Regions from separate parts of the Homo sapiens genome. Here region 2 is linked to region 1. The links come from fine-mapping of genetic effects on gene expression. A gene starts in region 1. The other region holds a variant in brackets. All regions are shown on one strand. Distances are from middle to middle.

Region 1 (4,386 bases):
GGCAGTGCGTTAGGTAAGTAAGCACTTTTTCTTTTCTTTTTTTGAAACCGGATCTGGTTCTGTCACCCAGGCTGGAGGGTAATGGTGCAATCACGGCTCACTGCAGTCTGGACATCCTGGGCTCAAGCAGTCCTCCCAGGGCCAGCCTCCTGAGTTGCTGGGACTACAGGTGTGGGACTACCACCCTACCTGGCTAATTTTTTTATTTTTTGTAGAATGGCATCTTGTCATGTTACCCAGGCTGGTCTTGGAACTCCTGGGGCGAGGCTTGGTGGCTCACACCTGTAATCCCAGCACTCTGGGAGGCCAAGGCATGAGGATCACTTGAGGTAAGTAGTTTGAGACCAGCCTGGCCAACATGGTGAAACCCCGTCTCTACTAAAAATACAAAAATTAGTTGGGCTTGGTGGTAGACGCCTGTAATCCCAGCTACTCGGGAGGCTGAGGCAGAAGAATGGCCTGAACCTGGGAGGCAGAGGTTGCAGTGAGCCAAGATTGCTCCACTGCACTCCAGACTGGATGACAGAGGGAGACTCTGTCTCAAAAAAAAAAAAAATAAATAAATAAATAAAATAAAATAAACTTGTTTAGGAGAGTCAACCAAGACTTAGAGAGGCCAAGACAACCTGTGCAAGGTCACAAGGCAAGTGAAAGAGACAGAGCTTTGCAAACACCCCCCACCCCCGTCCCAGAAGCCTGGGCAGGCAGGAAGATGGTCACTCAAAGGGGCCCACACCACAGTCCAGCCTGAGATCAGGCCAGGCCCAGCTGGCTGCAAGTCCACACCTTTCCACCACGGTAGACAGAAGGCAATGAGCTAGAGACAAGGTAGCAAAAGAGGAGATTTGTGCTGCTTGGAGCAAAGCCCCAAGGCTCTGGGATGGCAGACACAAGGCCTTACGCCAGCCTAGTGGCCTTGGGTGATCACAGTCCCTTCTGAGCCTCCCAGCTCAGCTAAGGTGGGGATGATAACACAGCCTCCACCCCACTCCTTACTTGGGATTCAAGATGTTGAATCAAGAAGGGACATTATCCCTTGACAATGATAACAACAATAACAATGACAATAATGACAGGAGGAGGATGTTATCATTTGGCAGCCACACCACCACAAATGAGTAGTTCCTGGAATGGAGAAGTGGCCGCCCATCTGGGAGACAAGAAAGGCAAGAGGGGTTGGTGGGAGGGAGAGGTGGCTGCACGGGCTGTTCTCATTCATTTGCTTCCTGAATCCTGGAAACAGCCCCAGAGAGTGGAGTTTGCCCACTGGACAGATGGGCACACCGCGGCTTCTCAAGGCTGTCCAGAGAAGGCTACATCCCAGCGCTAGCCACTGAGGCCTGATCACGCAAGAAGCCCCTTCCCAGGCTCCAAAGGAGGGCCCCCAATTTGTAGGCTGTAGCTGGGAGGCGGGCCCCTGTGTTCTAGCACTCGGAAAGGAATCCTGAAGTAAGGTACCCCCAGAGTCCTCCTTCCAGCTGAGAGGGGAAGTAGGGTCCAAACCTCCTCCTTCAGCTCTGTTCTCCCCTCTACCCTCCTACCACCCCTTTCCAGAGCCGTTGTGCCAGACACTCAGGGGTAGTCATGGGCAGACTAGGAGATGGCCAGACAGACAGAAGAATTCACACGGAAGAGAGGAGCCAGCGCTAGCCAGGAATCAAGCTGTAAGAGTCAGCCAGAGAGAATCAAACAGGGTCCCCTAGGAGTCAGCTAGCCAGTCAGACAGTAGAGGCCAGCTGGTGTCACCCAACAGAGGGACTGCTCAGTGTTAAAGTCTGTGAGGGGCACGGATGGGCGGCCAGACAGCAGAGGTCACCCTGGACAGCTAGCCAGACAGCAGGGGGCTGCCAGGTGGGACTGGACAGATGGACAACCAAATGGTGGTGGCAGGGAGGCTTGCCCAGGACAGAGAGACAGCCAACCAGACGGCGGGGGCAGCTCCAGATACAAGAACAAGCCAGCCAGACCGCAGCGGTCGCCCCAATAGATATCTAGATGGCCGGTTTCACCTCTGATGGACAGCCCGAAAGAGCAGAAGAGGGATCTACCCCAGACCCACGGCCAACCAGATGGCAGACTTCACCCACGAAAGCTGGGACCAGATGGACCGCAGGGTTCCAGCGCACCTCCTGTCCTACGGCGCCCTGGCCCGTGACACCGCCCCTGGGGCCCGGGCCTGCTCCGGAGCCCCTGCAGGGAGTCCTCTGCCCAGGGCGTCCCACAGGGCCCGCCTCCCCGACCCCGTCCGGTTCCCCGCCGCGGGCACGCAAGCGCCGCAGTTACGCCGGCGGCGCACGGCGCGCCATTCCCGGTCCGCCCTCCGCGCCCTAGGCCGCCACCCGCCCGCGATCCCTGCCGCGCCCGCTCACCGGCCCACGAAGTTCTCCAGCACCGAGCTCTTGCCGGCGCTCTGGCCGCCCACTACAGCGATCTGCGGCAGGTCCAGGTGGCAGCTCTGGCCGATGGAGCTGAAGGCGTCCTGCAGTTTGTTGACCAGCGGGATCAGCTCTTCCATCCCGCGGTTGCCCATGGCGCCGGCGGCCCCCGGCCCGAGCGCCCTGCGCTCCTCGCCCGCCGCCGACCCTCAACGACCTGGCCCCGCGGCGTCTGTAGCCGTTGCTCCCCGCCCGCCCGGGCCTCGGCAAGACGCCCGCTCCCGGCTCGGCCTCACGGTCGCCGCCTCATCCGGTTCTCAGGCGACACCCGACCCGAGCGACCTCCCGCCCCGGCCCCGGGGGCTGCGCCCAAAGCACTCGCGCCGCACGCGACTGGCCTGCTGCACCGCCACTCGGATACACTAGCCAATAAAAACTAGGCACGGGCCTATGGTTGAGTAAACCTTCCCCCTGGGGACCGTCTTGCTGACTTATTGGACAAAAGAACCGTCACTGTTGTGCAACAGCCAATAGCGGCAGAAAGCAAGTTGTCAAGAGAGGAAGGGGGTGTTTCCGAAAAAGGCACGTTGGCTCTGCCCATTGGCGAAGTTCCACCATCTTATTGGCAGGCAGACGTGCCAGTAGACAATGTGGACCAATGGTGTTGGGGATTGAGCTACTACCTCGTTCCCTAAGAATTTCCCATTGGTTCATATAAATATCACTTCGTTGCTCCAGCCAACCAGGCAAAAGAGGGCGGGCTTTAACATCCGAATCTTGACTATCATTGAGAACCATATCTGTCAATCAGAAAAACTCCCGTTCTTCCTTGTGATTGTTGGATGTCTGCAACAGCCTTCTGAAGTATAGGATAGATCCCACCGTACTCGCTCAAGGGCGACACCTCGTGGTGGGATCCGATGTCTCGATTTTTGAGTTTCCTGGCACTGGGGAAAACTACAAGTCCCAGAGCGCATCTCAGTTCCCAGACTGCAAACCAGCTCTGGGAGCAGGGTCCCAATGCGCTCTGCAAATGGTAGAGGCCAAGTCATTGCTTCCTAGGGATAGAACGCAATAAAATCACTCCTCCACGCCTTTGCAAATGCTGTGCCCTTTCTGCTCACGCCCGATCTTGACGCCGCTAACACTCCAATGTTTTCCCCCACTTCTTCAACTTTAGCAGATCATGAATCTTTTTTCTTTTCTTTTTTTTGAGGCGGGGTACTCACTCTGTCACCCAGGCTGGAGTGCAGTAGCGCGATCTTGGCTCACTGCAACCTCCGCCTCCCCGGTTCAACCAATTCTCCTGCCTCAGCCTCCCGAATAGCTGGGATTACAAGTGTGAGCCACCACGCCCAGCTAATTTTGTATTTTTAGTAGACGGGGTTTCACCATATTGGCCAGGCTGGTCTCGAACGCCTGGCCTCAAGTGATCCGCCCGTCTTGGCCTCCCAAAGTGTTGGAATTACAGGTGTGAGCCACCGCGTCTAGCTAATGAATCTTCTTTTCTTAGAAACTGGGTCCTTACTCTGTTGCCCAGGCTGGGGTGCAGTAGTGCACTCATAGCTCAATTCAACAAGCACCTGGGCTCAAACGATCCTCCCGCCTCAGCGTCCCGAGTAGCTGGAACCACAGACGTGCGCAACTATGCCCAGCTAATTATTTTTATTTTATTTTTTATAGAGACAGGGTCTTGCTGTGTTGTCCAGGCTGGTCTCAAACTCCTGCGCCCAAACGACCCTCACAGGCCGGCCTCCCAAAAGTGCTGGGATTACATGTGTGAACCCCCCCAACTGGCTTTAGATCTTTTTGAGTACCCACTAAAACTCAACAAATCCTCTCCCCGTGAAAAGACACGCTATTTTGTAGGCAAAATTGGGGTTCTGGGAACTGGAACTCCTGACAGTGGACAGAGACAAATAGGAGGATTTGAAGTGTTTTGACCCCTCTGGAGACAAATAGGCCAGAGACAAGGAAACCCAGTGAGAAGGCAGGAGCAGGTAAGTGCTCT
Region 2 (4,386 bases), 65 kb before region 1:
GGATCACTTAAGATCAAGAGATCGAGACCAGCCTGGCCAACACAATGAAACCCTGTTTCTACCAAAAAATACAAAAATTATCTCGGTGTGGTGGTGGGTGCCTGTAGTCTCAGCTACTTGGGAGGCTGAGAAAGAACTCGGGAGGTGGAGGTTGCAGTGGGCCGAGATCACACAATGGCACTCCAGCCTGGGTGACAGAGCAAGACTCTGTCTCAAAAAAAAAGAAAAAGAAAAACAAAGCCATAAAATCAGCCTATACTTGCAAAGTGTAAAGCAGAGTTTGGCCATCTGTCCTACAACAGAGAAAGCTGGGTGCAGTGGCTCACGCCTGTAATCCTAGCACTTGGGGAGGTTGAGACAGATCACTAGAGGATAGGCGTTTGAGACCAGCCCAGGCAATATGGTGAGACCTTCTCTCTACAAAAGATAAAAAAAGTTTTAAAAATTAGCTAGGTGTGGCAGCACACACCTGTAGTCCCAGCTACTCAGGAGGCTAAGGCAAAAGGATCGCTTGAGTACAGGAGGCTGAGGATGCAATGAGCCGTGTTTGTGTCACTGCAATCCATTCTGGACAACAGAGTAAGACCTTGTCTGAAAAATCAAAAAGGCTGGGCATGGGCCGGGGGCAGTGGCTCACACTGTAATTCCAGCACTTTGGGAGGCCAAGGCAGGCAGATCATGAGGTCAAGAGATCAAGACCATCCCAGCTAACACGGTGAAACCCCGTCTCTACTAAAAATACAAAAAAAAAAAAAAAATTAGCCGGGTGTGGTGATGGGTGCCTATAGTCCCAGCTACTCGGGAGGCTGAGGCAGGAGAATGGTGTGAACCCGGGAGACGGAGCTTACAGTGAGCCGAGATTGTGCCACTGTACTCCAGCCTGGGCAACAGAGCGAGACTCCATCTGGGGTTGAGGGGAAGGCCGGGATGGGTACAGTGGCTCACGCCTGTAATCCCAGCACTTTGGGAGGCTAAGGCGGGCAGATCACCTGAGATTAGGAGACAAGCCTGGCCAACATGGTGAAACCCTGTCTCTGCTAAAAATACAAAAGTTAGTTGAGTGTGGTGGCGCACGCCTGTAATCCCAGCTACTTGGGAGGCTGAGGCATGAGAATCACTTGAACCTGGGAGGTGGAGGCTGGAGTGAGCTGAGATCATGCCACTGCACTCCAGCCCGGGCAACAGAGTGAGGCTCTGTCTCAAAAAAAAAAAAAAAAAAAAAATCATCAAAAAAATAAAAAATAAATACAAAGTGTCTGGCGAGCTAGAAAAGAGGCATGAAGGAACCTCACATCTATGGCATGGAGCAAGTGGGGTAACCCAAAGACCTCCGTGACCAAGGGTCCCTGCCCTGCAGCCCTGGCCATCGACCCCCGTCTATGTGGGCTGCCTAGAAAGGCAGGGAGCTACGCTGGCCTTCCCTTGGTCTGTGACAGGATACTAGGGCACTTAAGTCATGAGCAAATGGAGAGGAAGGGGCGCTGCTGCTCTGGGAAGCACCCCACGTGGAAGGAGGCTGAGCCCCCTCCAGGCTCCCTGGAGGCCAGCTGGACTTTTCACTGCTGGCTCTCAGGAGGCCCCAGCCAGCTGCGGAGTTTTACTTCCCTTCCTCTCCCTACTCCCGTTTGTAAGCACCCCAGCTTCCTCTCCTGGAGGGCCCCTCCCTCTAGACACTGACTTCCCTCTTTGCTCTCCTGAGCTGCCTTCTCTGGGTGGCTCTTTTCCCGGCCCCCGCGCCCCTACTGGATTCTTGATCGTGCATTTATCTGGCGGTTTGTTGGGTGTCAGTCTCCCCCATTAGAATTATGCCTTCTACAAGGACAGGAACCTACTCTCGTGTGGACACTGTGTCCCCCTGATATGTGCATGAAAAGATGACTGCTGGAGTGCTGCTGAGGCCCTGCTGCCACCCTGGAAGGTGCTAGAAAACAGCGAGGAGGAGCGTCTTGCCCCTGCTACCACACACTGGCCCACTGTATAGCTTTTAATA[C/T]CATTTCTGTTTATGCACCATGTGAATCAATTACTTACAAGAAGAGAACGATAGGCCAGGCATGGTGGCTCATGCTTGTAATCTCAGCACTTCAGGAGGCTGACACAGGCGGATCACTCGAGCTCAGAATTTGAGACCAGCCTGGCCAACATGGTGAAACTCCATCTCTACTAAAAATACAAAAATTAGCCAGGTGTGGTGGCACACGCCTGTAATCCCAGCTACTCAGGAAGCTGAGGCAGGAGAATCACTCGAACCTGGGACGTGGAGGTTGCAGTGAGCCAAGATCATGCCACTGCACTCTAGCCTAGGTGACAGAGTGAGACTGTGTCTCCAAAAATAAAAAATAATAATAATAATAATAATAATAATAATAAATAAAAAAGAGTTATTAACCCCCTGTCACCAACCCCAGGCAATGCATACAGTCTTCTGGGTAAATGACTGAATAATTACAATGATAATTAAAATTTTGGTAATAATAACAGTGATGGTTGTAATAGTAGCAGCACCAAGTCACTGAACATCTGCTCTTCACCAGACCCTGAATCAAGTACATTTCTTTTATTTAGTTATTTAAGTTTTTGAAACAGGGTCTCACTCTATTGCCCAGGCTGGAGTGCAGTGGCATGAACATGGCTCACTGAAGCCTTGATTTTCCAGGCTCAAGTGATCCTCCTGCCTCAGCCTCCTGAGTACCTGGGACTACAGGCATGTGCCACCATGCTTAGCTAATTTTTTCTATTTTTCCTAGAGATGGGGTCTCCATATGTTGCCCAGACTGGTCTCAAACTCCTAGGCTAAATGTGGACTGAACCCATTTTGCTAAAACAAGTGCTGCTCTAGCCTGAAACAAGTGCCAGTGAGGATTGCAGCTGTTGTGCAGTGCACAGCCTATGCCACTGCACACTACGTGCAAACCCTTGCAGTACCTGATTCAGCGTCTTCTGCAGATGTGGCGTGCCCATGCGGTCGGCCATGTGCCGGTAGGCCGGGTGGGAGAGGAAGAACTTCCTCTCAGCTGCCAGTGCTGCACGGATGTCCTTCTTGCCCTCAATATCCTTCTGGCTGCGGTTCACCACGCCAATGTAGCCTGTGGGGAGAGGCAGTCAGGTCAGGGGCAAAGCTAGGTGAGCCAAGTGGACCTGGCACGGGGATGGGCAAGATTCAAGTATAGAGATGGATCCTGTCCCACGAGGCACTCACAGCTGTCATAACATGTTACTCAGAAACAACACAGAGGGTGCGAATGCACATGGCAGCTGCGAAGAGCAACATTAAGTATTTGGAGGAAGGAGAGCTCACATCCAGCCTGTGTGCGCAGGGACAGAAAAAAGCTTTGGGGCAGATGAAATCTACAAGCTGAGATTCAAAGATAGGTGAGAAAAAAATCTCGGCCGGGAGCGGTGGCTCACGCCTGTAATCCCATCACTTTGGGAGGCTGAGGTGGGTAGATCACAAGGTAAGGAGCTCGAGGCCACCCTGGCCAGCATGGTGAAACCCCGCCTCTACTAAAAATACAAAAAATTAGCCGTGCATGGTGGCGCGTGACTATAGTCCCAGGTACTCGGGAGGCTGAGGCAGGAGAACCGCTTGAACCCGGCAGGCGGAGGTTGCAGTGAGCCAAGATCATGCAACTACACTTCAGCCTGGGCGACAGATCAAGACTCTGAATAAAAAGAAAGAGAAAAAGAAAAAGAAAAAGAAAAAAAATCTCAAGGCCAGGTGCGGTGGCTCACGCCTGTAATTCCAACACTTTGGGAGGCCGAGGCGGGTGGAACGCTTGAGCCCAAGAGTTCCAGACCAGCCTGGGTAACATGGCAAAACCCCATCTCTACAAAAATATACAAAAATTAGCGAGGCGTGGTAGCACACGTGTATAGTCCCAGCTACCTGGGAGGCTGAGATGGGAGGATCACCTGAGCCTGGGAGTTCGAGGTTGCAGCAAGCTGTAATCACCCCACTGCACTCCAGCCCGGGCAACAGAGCGAGGCCTTGTCTCACAAGAAAAAAAAGAAATAACATCTTAAAAACAAGAGCAATAGGGAAGAGCTAAAATCCACTATCAAACGAGTATATTTTAAACAGTTGGGTACATCAGGGTATTCATGTCCAGAGAGATCAATGGAACTGAAAAGAAAGTCCAAAACTACACCGAGAAGGAGGTAGAACTGAAAGTTAACGCTTCAGTATATGGGGGAGAAAAGCTGGATAATTCAATACACACTGTTGCAAAGAATCCAAGTGGAATGCCTACCATTGCACTCCTGGCTAGGTTTTTGTTTTGTGGGGTTTTTTGTTTTGAGACAGAGTTTCACTCTTGCTGCCCAGGCTGAAGTGCAGTGGTGCAACCTCAGCTCACTGCAACCTCCACCTCCTGAGCATCTGGGATTACA

Evidence for each region. PIP is the estimated chance that this variant, and not a neighbour inherited with it, causes the effect. A credible set is the group of variants that fine-mapping cannot tell apart.
Region 2: its variant is the best candidate, but not a certain one, in a credible set for the expression of DNM2 in whole blood (TOPMed, PIP 0.62).

What each region holds. Positions count from the first base shown.
Region 1 is chr19:10,716,387-10,720,772 of GRCh38, reverse strand. DNM2 (dynamin 2) reads right to left here and starts at 2,694. Exons shown (of 21, transcript NM_001005361.3): 1 at 2,370-2,694. The coding sequence starts at 2,530. It overlaps MIR638 (microRNA 638), which reads right to left and starts at 2,369; the gene lies at 2,270-2,369. RefSeq lists enhancers at 1,536-1,675, 3,116-3,235, 3,426-3,615 and a silencer at 2,166-2,835.
Region 2 is chr19:10,781,657-10,786,042 of GRCh38, reverse strand. It overlaps DNM2 (dynamin 2), which reads right to left. Exons shown (of 21, transcript NM_001005361.3): 6 at 2,923-3,083. Among named protein-coding and RNA genes, the nearest start is that of MIR4748, 3.6 kb to the right of the region's middle. The variant C/T (reference allele first, on the strand shown) is at 1,991.